Regions from separate parts of the Homo sapiens genome. Here region 2 is linked to region 1. Evidence: fine-mapped expression QTL. A gene starts in region 1. The other region holds a variant in brackets. All regions are shown on one strand. Distances are from middle to middle.

Region 1 (2,908 bases):
GGTACTGGCACGGAGGATCTAGTCTGAGGGTTTAGGTCAGTGTTTCAGCCGTGGATCTGGGGCAGATGAATGTAGACAGACCAGGCCAGTGATCAGGACTGAGCCCAGACTTCATCGTGAGATATGGAAGTTGAGTCAGAATCTGCAAAGGAGCTGAGCAGGAGCTGCAGGGGGTAGGAGGAAAACTGGGAGAGTGTAGCCCCTGGGAGTCAAAGGGAGCAAGCTTCAAATGATGCTGAGGGGGTGAGAATGGAGAATGGAACACTGGATTCCATTTGGTAGTACACAGATCGCTGAGGACCCTGTCCCGGGCAGTTTCCTGGAGGAAGAGGCAAGCCTGGCTGGAGTGGGTAGAGGGGAGAGTGAAGGCGAAGGATTAGAGTGTATAGAGACCAGTGTCTTGGTCTGAGGGGAGTAGAGACAGGTGACAACCACAGGGCAGACGTAGGTTAAAGGTGTTTAGTTTTTCCTTCAAGTAAATGGGCAGATGTATTCCATATACGTTCCCAGTGAAGGGCCGGGTGCGGTGGCTCAAGCCTGTAGTCCCAGCACTTTGGAAGGCCGAGGCGGGTGGATCACCTGAGATCAGGAGTTTGAGACCAGCCTGGCTAACATGGTGAAACCCCGTCTCTACTAAAAATACAAAAATTAGCTGGGCATGGTGGCGGGCGCCTGTAATCCTAGGTACTCAGGAGGCTGAGGCAGAAGAATCGCTTGAACCCAGGAGGCGGAGGTTGCGGTGAGCCGAAATCGCGCCATTGCACTCCAGCCTGGGTGACAAAAGCAAGACGCAGTTTTTTGTTGTTGTTTTTTTAATTGCCAATGAGGAAAGGGGAAGTTCTGTGCTAGGCGATAGAGATCCAACTGTTGAGCAGGCCTCTCTGCCTGTGGCCTTCCGGCCGGTTTCCAGACGCCCAGGTGGCCAACATTAGAGTCCGCGTAGCAGTGTGAGGTAACCCACTGAGATAGGTCGGGCCTGCGGAGCCTGGCGAGCAGCGGCCCTCTCCCTGGGGCTTCCCTTCAATCTCCGGGACATTTCCCCGACCTGGAGCTCCTCCGCCTCACCGCCAGGCCTCTCTGCAGATTGCAAGTTCACCTGCCACTACCGCTGCCGCGCGCTCGTCTGCCTGGACTGTTGCGGGCCCCGGGACCTGGGCTGGGAACCCGCGGTGGAGCGGGACACGAACGTGGTGAGCGCGGGGCCGAGGGCGTATGGGAAGGGCGAGGATGGGCAGGCCACAGTGCAGGCATTCTCGAGGGCTGCCTGGGTGCCGCGCGCAAGGAGCGTTCTAATTGCCGATTTCCCGGCGGCACAGAGAGGCTAATTCTGCGCGGGGGCTGGGAGGGGAGCCTGGATTGCCGGCTCCGCAAGTACTCCACCCGCTGCAAGCGGACCCGGGCCCAGGCTGACCCAGGCTCCGCGCACGCGCACTTCCCGCACCTTCCCGCCCTCGCCTCCGGCCAGAGGCCACTCTTGTGCGCTTGCCCGGACGCTGGCACCCGCCCCCGTTCCCTGTGGTAGGTGGGGTCTGTGAGTGGAGCTCCGGAGCGATGAGGTCATTCCTGGGGGCGAAGCGTGCGTGTCCCCGCCCCGGCGTTCCTGCCCCAATGAGACAAGAGCTAGATCCCGGCGATCTACGTTTCAGTCTTAACGGTTGCGGCGCGGCTCTGGCCCGGGCGCACGCGCACACTGACACGCGTACACGCACGCACGCGACCGGGGCGGTGGTTGGCGGCTACGGACGCGCAGGACTGGGGGACGGGCGGGTACGGCTATGGGCGAGGCGGAGGCGCCTTCTTTCGAAATGACCTGGAGCAGCACGACGAGCAGTGGCTACTGCAGCCAAGAGGACTCGGACTCGGAGCTCGAGCAGTACTTCACCGCGCGAACCTCGCTAGCTCGCAGGCCGCGCCGGGACCAGGTGGGAGCCAGGGGGTGCCGGCGGGCGGGAGGGGAAGCGGTCGCTGGAGCTCCGCCCTCCCCGGTCCGTTGCCGCGTCCTGGGTCGGTGGGCAGCCCCACCCTCCTGGCTACGTGGCTCCCCGCGGGTCCTGGCCGGGGACCTGCCCGCGGAACCGTGCGTAAGACCCCGATTCCACCGCCTAGATGCTGGGTGCCGGGGCCCCCTTGGTTTCTGTCACAGACAGGTTGAACACGGAAAAAGCAGCTGTATGGCTTGTGGTAGACCTGAGCCGGGCATTATCCAGCTATGACTAAAGCCGACCGAGCAGTTTGGACTAGCACCTCGATTTCCGCGTTCGAATGCTCCTGCTCCCTCCTTGGGGAGACTAGGGGAGGATGTGGAGAGGGAAGAGTCCTCGCCAGGAATTGAGAAGTATGTTTAGGAAAACTTGAGAGGCAGAGAGAGATCCTGCTCCTCCATCTGCACTCCTGTATGGAGCCAGCTGAGCCCTCACCTCTTCCCTGTTCTGGCCTGTCACCAGCTGCTGGAATGTGGAAGATTCTGTTCCCTTCCTCTAGGGTGGATCTGGAGAAAGATTTGGGAATAGATAGGAAAGAAGTCTTGTTTTGGACCATAAGCATTCAGGAGCACTTTACCCACAGGAAGGGGGAAAGCTAGATTATAAAATGCCTAAAGAGGTGGAAAAAGAGATCCAGGTTACTAACCCAGGACTGTAAGGTGTCTCGGAACCTCCTAGGTATCCCCATTATCGGAGAACTGTGTGCCAGATGCCATTGGTGTGACCACCAGGCTCAGAGAACCAGGCCTAGGCACCAGGAAAAAGAAACAGGGACTGTGAAGCTCAGTATGCCTGGCAGAAATGGGGCGGAAATCCTTATTTAAGTAAAGAAAGTGGAGTTGTGAGTGATGCTTCAGATAAAATTTTACAAAATTCCTTACAAAATGGGTGGTGCTCAGCACGCCAAAATCTTAGCCCAGAGCTTG
Region 2 (2,908 bases), 550 kb before region 1:
AATCGCTTGAACCCAGGAGGCAGAGTTTGCAGTGAGGCGAGATGGCGCCACTGCACTCCAGCCTGAAAGAGCGAGACTCCATATCAAAAATTAAAAAAAAAAAAAAAGAATGGTATATACTTGCAGTGAAATCTTATTCAGCCATAAAAAGGAACGTACATGAATGAACTCAGAAAACATTATGCTGAATGAAAGAAGGCAGATGCAAAAGACACCTATTATATAATTTCATTTACATGAAATATTCAGAATAGGCAAATACACAGAGACAGAAAGAAGTCATATGGTTGTCAGCAGCAGGAGGATGAAAAAGTATGGCCACTTAATGGGCTTGGAAGTTTCTGTTTGTGGAAATGAAAACATTTTGAAACATAATAATGGTGATGTTTGTAAAACATTATGCATGTACTAAATGTCACTCATGGTAAACGTTATGTGTATTTTACATTCTAGATTTTTGAAAAATAAGTATAAAATATTTAAAATACAAATTTCTATAATTTTCAATGAAAATATAGAAGACAGAAGGAAGTGGCACATTTGTCAAATGCTGAAAGAAAAGCACTGTCAATCTAGAATATTATATCTACCAAAAATACATTTCAGGAATGGAAGACAAATCAAAACATTTTCAGATGAAGGAAAACAAAAAGAATTTGTCATCAACAGAAATACCCTAAAAAAAAGTAGTGAATGAAAATTCTCTAAGCAGAAAGAAAATGATAAAACAAAAAACCATGGAACTACACTAAGAAAAAACAAAAAATGTAAGCAAACCCATGGGTAAATATAATAGACATTCATTTTTCTCTTGAATTTTCTTAATTAGGTTTGATGGTTGAAGCAAACATTTTTTTTTATAAAGAAAAAACTTCTCCTTGTGCGTGATTATTTGCCATTCACAGATATCTAGCAAAATGGCCTTTTTTTTTTAATACTTCAAGTTCTAGGGTACATGTGCACAACGTGCAGGTTTGTTACATATGTATACATGTGCCATGTTGGTGTGCTGCACCTGTTAACTCATCATTTGTATTAGGTATATCTCCCAATGCTATCCCTCCCCCATTCCCCCACCCCACGACAGGCCCTGGTGTGTGATGTTCCCCACCCTGTGTCCAAGTGTTCTCATGGTTCAATTCCCACCTATGAGTGAGAACATGCAGTGTTTGGTTTTCTGTCCTTGCAATAGTTTGCTCAGAGTGATGGTTTCCAGCTTCATCCATCTCCCTCCAAAGGACATGAACTCATCCTTTTTCATGGCTGCATAGTATTCCATGGTGTATATGTGCCACATTTTCTTAATCCAGTCTATCATTGATGGACATTTGGGTTGGTTACAAGTTTTTGCTATTGTGAATAGTGCTGCAATAAACATATGTGTGCATGTGTCTTTATAGCAGCATGATTTATAATCCTTTGGGTATATGTCCAGTAATGGGATGGCTGGGTCAAATGTTACTTCTAGTTCTAGACCCCTGAGGAATCTCCACACTGTCTTCCACAATGGTTGAACTAGTTTACAGTCCCACCAACAGTGTAAAAGTGCTCCTATTTCTCCACAACTTCTCCAATACCTGTTGTTTCCTGACTTTTTAATGATCGCCATTCTAACTGGTGTGTGATGGGATCTCATTGTGGTTTTGATTTGCATTTCTCTGATGGCCAGTGATGATGAGCATTTTTTCACGTGTCTGTTGGCTGCA[T/G]AAATGTCTTCTTTTGAGAAGTGTCTGTTCATAGCCTTTGCCCACTTTTTGATGGGGTTGTTTGATTTTTTCTTGTAAATTTGTTTAAGTTCTTTGTAGATTCTGGATATTAGCCCTTTGTCAGATGGGTAGATTGTAAAACTGTTCTCCCATTCTGTAAGTTGCTTGTTCACTCTGATGGTAGTTTCTTTTGCTGTGCAGAAGCTCTTTAGTTTAATTAGATCCCATTTGTCTATTTTGGCTTTTGTTGCCACTGATTTTGTTGTTTTAATCATGAAGTCCTTGCCCATGCCTATATCCTGAATGGTATTGCCTAGGTTTTCTTCTAGGGTTCTTATGGTTTTAGGTCTAAGGTTTAAGTCTTCAATCCATCTTGAATTAATTCTTGTAAAAGGTGTAAGGAAGGGATCCAGTTTCAGCTTTCTATGTATGGCTAGCCAGTTTTCCGAGCACCATTTATTAAATAGGGAATTCTTTCCCCATTGCTTGTCTTTGTCAGGTTTGTCAAAGAGCAGATGGTTGTAGACGTGTGGTATTATTTCCGAGGGCTCTATTCTATTCCATTGGTCTATATCTCTGTTTTGGTCCCAGTACCATGCTGTGTTGGTTACTGTAGACTTGTAGTATAGTCTGAAATAAGGTAGCATGATGCCTCCAGCTTTGTTCTTTTGGCTGAGGATTGTCTGGGCAATGCGGGCTCCTTTTTGGTTCCATATAAACTTTAAAGTAGTTTTTTCCAATTCTGTGAAGAAAGGCATTGGTCACATGATGGGGACAGCATTGAATCTATAAATTACCTTGGGCAGTATGGCCATTTTCACGATATTGATTCTTCCTACCCATGAGCATGGAATGTTCTTCCATTTGTTTGTGTCCTCTTTTATTTCGTTGAGCAGTGGTTTGTAGTTATCCTTGAAGAGGTCCTTCACATCCCTTGTAAGTTGGATTCCTAGGTATTTTACTCTCTTTGAAGCAATTGTGAATGGGAGTTCACTCATGATTTGGCTCTCTGTCTGTTACTGGTGTACAGGAATGCTTGTGATTTTTGCACATTGATTTTGTATCCTGAGACTTTGCTGAAGTTGCTTATCAGCTTAAGGAGATTTTGGGCTGAGATTTCTAAATATACAATCATGTCATCTGCAAACAGGGACAATTTGACTTCCTCTTTTCCTAATTGAACACCCTTTATTTCTTTCTCT

The links. PIP is the estimated chance that this variant, and not a neighbour inherited with it, causes the effect.
Region 2: its variant is fine-mapped to the expression of RASSF1-AS1 in T cells (TOPMed, PIP 0.92).

Annotation. Positions count from the first base shown.
Region 1 is chr3:50,336,187-50,339,094 of GRCh38, reverse strand. RASSF1-AS1 (RASSF1 antisense RNA 1) reads right to left here and starts at 1,584. Exons shown (of 1, transcript NR_109831.1): 1 at 795-1,584. It overlaps RASSF1 (Ras association domain family member 1), which reads left to right. Exons shown (of 6, transcript NM_007182.5): 2 at 1,084-1,190. RefSeq lists enhancers at 721-810, 891-1,150, 978-1,549 and silencers at 1,621-1,800, 1,871-2,180.
Region 2 is chr3:50,881,290-50,884,197 of GRCh38, reverse strand. The region is part of intron 3 of DOCK3 (dedicator of cytokinesis 3); the gene reads right to left. Among named protein-coding and RNA genes, the nearest start is that of MIR4787, 210 kb to the right of the region's middle. The variant T/G (reference allele first, on the strand shown) is at 1,707.